2 separate regions of the Homo sapiens genome follow, and region 1 is linked to region 2. The links come from fine-mapping of genetic effects on gene expression. A gene starts in region 2. The other region holds a variant in brackets. All regions are shown on one strand. Distances are from middle to middle.

Region 1 (4,390 bases), 46 kb before region 2:
AGTTTCTGAATTTAGACTCTGAGTTCCTGAATCAGGGCAGCCTACATCATAAGCAAGTCAGACCTCAGCCTGTGGTTTCCCAGAGAGGTGGTAACAGAGCTGAGATTTTGTTGGGTGGGGAGAAAAGGATGCAAAATCCACAGCTTAGGGCCATGCTCTGTGAAGTGGAGCTACAACAAAATGTGGCCTCTGATTTGGGTGAGTCCAGGGGAGAAGGTGTGGCTTTCAGATTTGTGTTGACCCTGCTGGGGCAGGCAGCATCTGTTGACCCTGTGGGCAGGCGGCCCTCCACCATGGGGGGAAGCCCTGAGTCTAGGGGATCTGGGGACAGGTGGTGAGGAACAGGCCTCCATGCTTAATGAACCGACACTGGGGTCTGGGTGGAGTGGTGCCTTGTGCAGCCTCGCCCAGGTGCTCTCTAGTTCTTTTTCTCCCTTGAGGGCACTTTTCAGTTCCTGAGATCAATGTGGTCCCTACTGGGGAGACCATAGGAGCCCTGCAGGCCATGACTTTGCTCAATGCATGGTAAGCATGGGCCATGGGCCAGAGACATCCTTGAAATTGATGCTTTGCATCCCGTGATTATGGTTATCATATGTTTTCAATTTTTTGAAGGTGTCTTGTTTCCAAATATTCTTCTATCACTTCTATATACATTGAAACCTCTTGGGAATTTCAGTATTTCAGCATCCAAATGACATTTTCCAGACTTCCCATTGCACCCACCATGATCATCTGACAGCCATGTCCCCATTCTCTCACTTGAGATGTACGGTCATTGTAACAGCCTGAGCTCTGGGTCCAGAATCCAGAGTCATCTCAAGTAGAGAAGGCAGCAAGTATGTGATTAGAAGTGTTGTGATGTAATAAAGAGGATGCTGGAGATTTGGGGCCCTGATGTTGGATTCTCCATTCAGGTTGCCACCAAAGCCCTGGACTCTGGGGAGCCATGCCCTCCAGCCAGCACCTGCCCATCTGGGTCCATATTAATGAGTCCCTCCATTCATGCATGCCTTCCCTTTGCACAGGCTGGGTATCTCAGTGCACCGGGCCCTGTACCAGGTCACGTGATCCTCAGAAGGCTCACAGTGTCCTAAGAGAGTAAATAGCAATAGCAATTATGACACAAAGCTATAAGCATGTACCTAGAAGGGGCCCTGTTGGGTGTGGGGACCAGGGAAGGAGAAGAGGCATCTAAGCTGAGATCTAAAAGACAAGGAAAGCTTAGGCCAGAGTACAGAAAGGAGTTTTCTGAGGTGGGGGAGTCCACGTCCTTCCTCAGCTCATTCAGGTCTCCACTCAAGGCCTTCCTTCTCTACTCGTCCAAAATGGCACCTGCTCTCACTCCCCACCCTCTTCCTTGTTCACTTGTCCAAGACAGTACCTGCCCTCTCATTCCCTCCCTTGTCCACCTGTCCAAGATGGTGCCTGCCCTCTCTCTCATTTCCTTCCTTGTCCACTCGGCCAAGATGGTGTCTGCCCTCTCTCTCATTTCCTTCCTTGTCCACCCGGCCAAGATGGTGCCTGCCCTGTCTCTCATTTCCTCCCTCCTCCACTTGTCCAAGATGGCGCCTGCCCTCACTCTCCACTCCTTTGTTCACTTGCCCACAATAGTGCCTGCCTCACTCTGTACTCCCTGTGCTTCTGTTCCCATCTATGCTCTTATCACCGCTTGGCTATAATTATGGTTTTGTTTTTGTTGACTAGCTGTATTGCTAGACTCTCCCTAGAATGTCAGCTCCATGAGGGCAGGGACTCTGTTTGTGGGTGTATCCACAGCTGTCTGATAGACTCTCAGTCACTTACTTGGCTAAACGAGTAGGTGCACAAAGTGAGTTCAGGCTGGCCAGAACAGAGAGGCTAAGTCAGGGAGTCTCCGACCGTCTACCTTGGCTGCCTAGTCACACCCAGTCACACTCTTCCTGTTGTTTTGACCCCACACCTGACTTCTGCCTGGCCTGCTCTGTGACTCACAGCACCCTCCTGCCACTTCTTGCCCTACTTGCTGACCCCACACTGTGGCTTCTGTTGCAGGCCTCCTGGTGCAGCCAGAGGTGAGGCAGGTCTGTGAGAAACCAGGGCTGACAGCCTGGCCTCAGCCAACCCAGGGC[C/A]AAGGCCCCGCGCAGCGGCCGGGTCCCTCTTGGTGCTGCTGGCTGCAGGTTAGCCTGTCCTTACTGCTCCCGGGGAGTTTCTTGGTGTCAGACCCAGCCTCTGAATTCCAGCTCTTCTCCATGTTTTTCTTCTCCAGGATCTCTCTGTTGTCTTGCATAGCCTCAGCCTGTTTGGGGACAGCCTGAATGAGTTTGTATTTGCAGTCTGTGTGGGGAGAACGGTCACCTGGCCAGGGATGAAGGATCCGCAGCAAATACATCCAATATCGAGAGGAGGCATCCCTGGTGCTCTCGCTGTAGTCTTTAGCATCATTCCTGGGGTTGGGGTCGCTTCCTGGTGGCTTCCTCGGTTCCTCTGCAGAATTTTCTGGGGTTTTCTTGGCCCAGGCATGTGGCCAGTTCTGAGTTCTCTCCTTTCTCATGGGGCACAGATGTCAATTCTGCCATCTCCTTCGGGACCTATGAAAGTCTTTGCCAAGTCACAGTCATTAAAAGGAGGCTCCTTCCAGCCCACTTGGCCAAATACAAGATAAAGGAAAAACAAAAGTCCAGGAGTGCCGCGCTTATTAGTAGCAGGGCTTGAGTAGGTTTGTTATTTTCTCTGGCAGTTCACATGGGCATTTTCCTGCATTGTGTCACCCACTTGTCACTGGGTTCCAGTACAATGTCCACCCCTACCCCACATGACACCAGTGGATTCTGGCTTTAAAAAGAGATGACCCTGATTTCTTCTCTGGCCTTGGATTACTGAGGGTTGGAGCTAGAAGGAACCTTGCTGATTGACCCTCTAATCTAAATGCCAGTCCACAGCCCACAAACCAATTGTTCTGAATTATTTGGGACACTTGGAAAAATAGAGATCCCTCACTCTTGCCACCAAGATTCTCTTTCAGTAGGTCTGGATTGGCCGTGGAATCTGGTGTTCCTAATGATTTTGATAAGACCCACTGACCACTCCAGTATCTTATCAAGTGAGGATGCTCAGGTCCCAGCAGGGGAAATAGCCCCCAAGAGTAGTGGGGCGGGCAGGATGGTGAAAAGGATGTGGGAAGACACATAAGGAAACGCAAGCTGTGATCCCAGCTCTGGCACTGACCATGTGTTTCACCCTGAGACTATGACTTCCCAGCCAAACCCTGGCTTTGTGATGATCCAAAGGCTTCTTTCAGTTGCTCTGGTGTTCTTTGGGTCCCCAACATTTCCCCTTGGAGAACCAATGCATTGTAATGCTCAGGAATGGCTCTCTACTACATTCTGCAAACATTGATTTTTCATTTCCTCCAGCCAGGCTGTGTGCCAAGCACTGAGTTTAGAGATCAATGTGACAGGGGCTCAGCCCTCAGAGAAGGGGGAACAGACCCACATTGCTGATGTTTCCATGGGCCAGGATTGTGCCCCAGAGCCCTTTTAGCTTTGTTGCATTTTGTTTGCATGACAGTCCTGCAGTGTAGATGTTGTTCCCATGTCGCAGTTGGGGAAATGCCTTTAGAGAGGTTGTGAGGCTACCTTAAGGTCATTCAGGTCGAAAGGGCCTATTATGTGCCAGGTGCTATTCTGAGTTCTTCACATCTATTACCATGTTTCATTGATTCTGTGACACACATTTATATGTCTGTGAAATCAGGAAGCACCTGGCACTTGATATAATTTGCCACCTACCCAGCAGAGATTTTTCCTTCTTAGTGGCATATAAAACAGGCGCCCATTACAACAGGTGGCATCTCAGATTTGATGAACCAATGTGTCTCACAGTTGCAGATAGTAAGTGGCAGAACCAGAATTCCCAACTGGCTCTCTCTGGCTTAAAGCACTTTCACACTCACAGCCTAGTGGGAAAGTGAACATGAATGACCAAATCAGGGCTGAGACACTTCCCGGGACACAGCCATGCTACCTGCCCACAAAGTCTTAACCATCCTTGGCTTCCTATTTCTCCTACACCCTCCTCCCTAGCAGGCAAGGCTGCTGGTCACCGGGTCTCAAACAGTGGAGAGAAATCTGGTAATCACACTCCTTGATATTTACCCAAATGAGCTGAAACTGACATCCACATGAAAACCTGCACATGGATATTTATAGCAGCTTTATTCATCCAGGCAAAAACTTTGAAGCAACCAAGATGTTTTTCAGTAGGTGAATGGATGAATAAACTATGGTGCACATAGAAAATGGAATACCATTCAGTCCTAAAAAGAAAGGAGCTATGAAGCCATGAAAAGACATGAAGCAACCTTACATGAAGGTTCACTTACTTATTACTAAGTGAAAGATGCCAATCT
Region 2 (4,390 bases):
TGAACACCTGGTCGGCTAGTAACTGAACCAACATTTAATCTGGGTGAGACAGAAATAATGCAGGGTGTTCACAGGAGAATAAAAACTCCAGACAGCAGTTTCCCATGAGTAGGGGTTATGGGCTGATGAACCCCTGAAAAACAGGGTGTGCACCAAGCTGGCTAAGACCAACTAGACCCAAAGTGGTGCTGGATTTGACCTAGGTTTCACCTAGGACCTCATTATATGCTCATTAACACACTAAATCACACCCACCAGCGCAATGACAGTTCTGGGAACACCCATATTTGGTGTAAAAACGAGTGGCACCACAGTTCCAAGAAATCTCCATCTTTTTCCAAGAATTGTCATAAATATTCCACCCCTTGGTTGAAGAAACCCATACAGAGAGAAACCGCACACCCCACTGTGTGACTCTCTTGAGTACGCCCGCAATCCCCTTTCTTAAGTGTGTACTTTTTCCCTTTGCAACAAATCTCCATACTTTCACTATTTTCCAACTCATCCTTGAATCCATTCTCAAGACGGTGTCAAGAGTCTGGACACCTGCGGGGGTCCAGGACCCACCGGCATTTGAGGACCTCCCCTGGCCCACTGATATCATGGGGACTGTTATTCTTCCCTCAGACGTAGATGCCTTTTTCTGTAAAGACTTAAGCCTGTATGTATGAGACAGAAGTTTGGCAGGACTGATTTCACAAGATAGAGGTCACAAAGACCCCCACTGATAAAACAGATGCAGTAAAGAGGGTGGCCCAAACCCACCAAAACCAAGAGGGCACCCCATAGGGGGCCACTCAGCGTTCCCTTTCCTGGCACACCAGGGTTGGAAAAACCACTCCAGGCAAAGAACCCGGATCAAGATTGAGACTGAAATCCACTAGTGGATGACCTCTGGTCATCCTCACTGCTCATTACAGGCTAATTATAATGATTTAGCTGCCGAAAGACACTCCCCCTGAGTGCCATGACGGTTTACAAATGCTATGGCAACCCGGGGAACTTATTACCCTACATGGTCTAAAAGGAGGAGGAACCCTCAGTTCCAGAAAATCCCCAGGGCCTTCTTGTAAAACTCATGAATAATCCATCCTCTATCTAGCATATGATCAAGAAATAACGGTAAAAATAGCCCATCTGCAGCCCTCCAGGCTGCTCTGCCTGTGGAGTAGCCACTCTTATTCCTTTACTTTCTTAATAAACTTGCTCTCATTTTACTCTATGGGGCTGCTCTCGAATTCCTTCCTGCTCCAAGCCAGGTGGCCTCTGTGGCTGTACCCTAGTTTTGGGGTTTTCCCTGCAACATATAGTTTGGAGCTGTTAAGCAATATCTATTGGGTGGCATTCTAGGACTTGAATACGGCTTGATCAAAGGCGAAGGGGTTTGATTTCTTTGCCTTGCAATATCTAATAAAAATCTCTTGGGGCGGAGAGGTAAAAAAAAACTGGTCGGCGCACACTGGATTGCAATTGCACACCAGTAGCTTTCTTAGCATGGCTTGAGTAAATTTTTGCATCATCCAGAACTGTGGTCACATAGGGGAAGGCAAACTCCAACATGTGATTTATACGTCTTGGCTCATATTCTTTGATCCCCACGACCCTCAGGACCTGCGCCATCCTCGGGGGATGCCTCAGGGCACATCTTCCTGGGGAGAAGCCCTGATCAGAGTTGCGGGGCTTTGTCACCTACATTAATGGATTCCAGTCCCGATCTTGATGCAAGTTCTTTGCTTACTGTGGTTTTTCTAACCCTTGGTGTACCTCGAAACAGAAATGAGCGGCCCCACAAGCGGTACCCCCTGCCCTGAGCTCTGGGCCCCTGGTCTGCCCCACGGCCCATCCCCTCCTGGGGAGCAGATGTTCCTAAATAATCGTTGAATAAATTAAAGAATGTTGAATTGAATGTGGCAATTACATGAGTTAGCAACATTTCTAAATATCTTTTTTTTCCCTCGGCTAAAGATGATTGTTCCTTAAGCTACGCATTTGTCTTTACAGTGTTTCAAGGCCTCATAAACCTATAATAAAATTGACGTCATAATCACGACACATTCAACACAGATGTGAGCGTTTGGAGAGAGCTTCAGCCTTCAGCACAGGCAACTGTGTTCTATTCACCGGGCTGTGCTCCTCGGAAGGGCTGGTGGTTCCTGTAAAAGTTTGTGCTCCCCGCGCCTTTCCTTCCTTCCCTCGTCTTTGGCGCCTGCGGGCACCGGGAGTCCTGGGAGAGGGAGGAGGAACGGCGAATCGGCGGGGCGTGTCCTTCACGCCGCCCCGTAGCTCGGGGCCGAAGCTGGCGCAGCGCGCGACTTTTTGAAAGCCAGGAGGGTTCGAATTGCAACGGCAGCTGCCGGGCGTATGTGTTGGTGCTAGAGGCAGCTGCAGGGTCTCGCTGGGGGCCGCTCGGGACCAATTTTGAAGAGGTACTTGGCCACGACTTATTTTCACCTCCGACCTTTCCTTCCAGGCGGTGAGACTCTGGTAAGAGGAGCTTTTTTTTTGCGAGCCCTGGCGGGGGCCGAGCCCGGAGCCGAGGCCTCTGCGGGGGCTTTCGTGACAGGGGAGGATCTGGTTACAGCCAAAGAAGGATTTTGGCAGCCAGCCCCTTGTGAGCCCCTGGATTGGGGTAAACAGTCTGACCTCCACCCCCGAACCCTGCTGAGCGTGTGAGATGCAGAGGACCTGAGAGTCATGCGGCCCACACTTTCTCTTTGCTTCCCCTTGGAGTTTCTACATCTACTTTGTTTCTCTTTTCTCCTTTACTTTTTCTCTCATTCTTTTAATTTTCCGTTTTCTGCTGCCCGTCCGCGTCGTAGCTTTGTCAGTAGTGTCCAGGTATTTGTTGAGTCCCAGGGTCCCAGGCTTAGGGCCCAAAGGTCACTGACGTTTGACCCGGTAAATCTGTAGATTAGCTTGCTTGAGCGCTGCTCACTTTAATGCTGCCTCTTAAACAGTACTTGATTGTTAAAAATATCTTACGTATTCCACAGAGTATGAAATTCTGCTCACGGTCATCCTACTGCCATTTCTAATTTATCTTCATCTAAATATTCACTGTTTTTTTTGCTGTCATCTTCATGAGAACCTTGTGATTTAGAATTAGTATGGTTATTTAACAATTAATGTTAAGAATGCATATACAATACATAACATAATCTGAAGCAGAGTCTGGGCTACTGGCCAAAAGCTATCTGTCAGCAGTTAATGCCTAAACCTGAGTGTGCAGTCTGGAAAAAAGTGGCCCTCAGACAACTGTGAAATGGATAGGACATGGTACATTGAGGTGCAAATAGCTTAGAGTAGAAGGTGGGACTCAGTCGTAAGAGAACATAATGAAATGTTACGACTTCTGTTTAAACCTAGTTGTTTTTAGAGATAGGTTTTCTTTTTTAAAACGTGCTGCTTCTGAATATCAAATCCTCCGTAGAGTGAGCGGGAAAAGGCAGTGAGACTCATAAGGCTCATCATAAGATTTCCAGGACACTCTACGCGCCAGGGTTTTCTGCATCCTACTTTGTTGGCACCTCCTTGGTTGCTTTGTTTTTCATTTCTCATGCTTGGATGCCCTAGGGCTCACCCCTCTTCTCTCTACAGTTACTCCCTAGATGATCTTACCTAGTCTCTTGGCTTTAATAACGTCTGCGTGCTGCCATCCCACAAACTTAAATCTTCAGCTTGCATTCTAGATCCGTATCCACCCACCTATTTGACTCCTCCACAAAACTCTCCAACAGCTTTCTGTTTCTCAGTACAAGCTGAAATCTTGACTGTGACTACAGTTGAGTAGAAGTCACAGTCCTGTGGCTACAATGCTCTACTTGACTTGCCAGTCCCTACCCTCAGCCTCCCTGACTTTGTCTCATTCTCCCCCTTGCTAGCTCGCCTCTTCGTGAAGATTTCTGCCTCAGGTCTTTGTATTTCTTGTCCTCTCTCTGGAAGACTTTCACTAGATACTTGCTTGGGCCTGCTCCCTCACTTCCTTCAAATGAGTTTCTCAAGGAGACCTTTCTTGACCACTTTAAACTCAAATATTAAGCCCCTTCCCAAGGCCTTCTGCTCCCTTCACTGATATATATTTCCCCTGAAATAGTATATGTTTATCTTCATACTTGTTTGGGTCTTGTTTGCTGCTCTATTTCCAGAGTGTAGAACAGTGCACTGTTAGAGCACATGGTATGTGCTCGAACAGTGCACTGTTAGAGCACATTGTATGTGCTCAGTGTGTGCATATTGACTGAGTGAATGAAGAGTAGCTTCACATAGGTAGATAGAAATCTTAGAAGAAGCTGGATGTGGTGGCTCACGCCTGTAATCCCAGCACTCTGGGAGGCCAAGGCGGGTGGATCACCTAAGGTCACGTTTGAGGCCAGCCTGACCAATATGGTGA

Which allele goes with the higher level. Alleles are on the strand shown, and positions count from the first base shown. SD is a standard deviation of normalised expression in the study named.
For the expression in fibroblasts of the gene that starts at base 2,319 in region 2, A is the high allele of the variant in region 1 and C is the other (small effect, 0.15 SD a copy in GTEx).

The links. PIP is the estimated chance that this variant, and not a neighbour inherited with it, causes the effect.
Region 1: its variant is the best candidate, but not a certain one, in a credible set for the expression of PBK in fibroblasts (GTEx, PIP 0.61).

The regions. Positions count from the first base shown.
Region 1 is chr8:27,882,146-27,886,535 of GRCh38, reverse strand. All of the region lies in intron 7 of SCARA5 (scavenger receptor class A member 5), which reads left to right. It overlaps MIR4287 (microRNA 4287), which reads left to right and starts at 420; the gene lies at 420-497. The variant C/A (reference allele first, on the strand shown) is at 2,112.
Region 2 is chr8:27,835,746-27,840,135 of GRCh38, reverse strand. It overlaps PBK (PDZ binding kinase), which reads left to right and starts at 2,319. Exons shown (of 8, transcript NM_018492.4): 1 at 2,319-2,484. It also overlaps the pseudogene LOC100130612. RefSeq lists enhancers at 2,030-2,079, 2,150-2,209.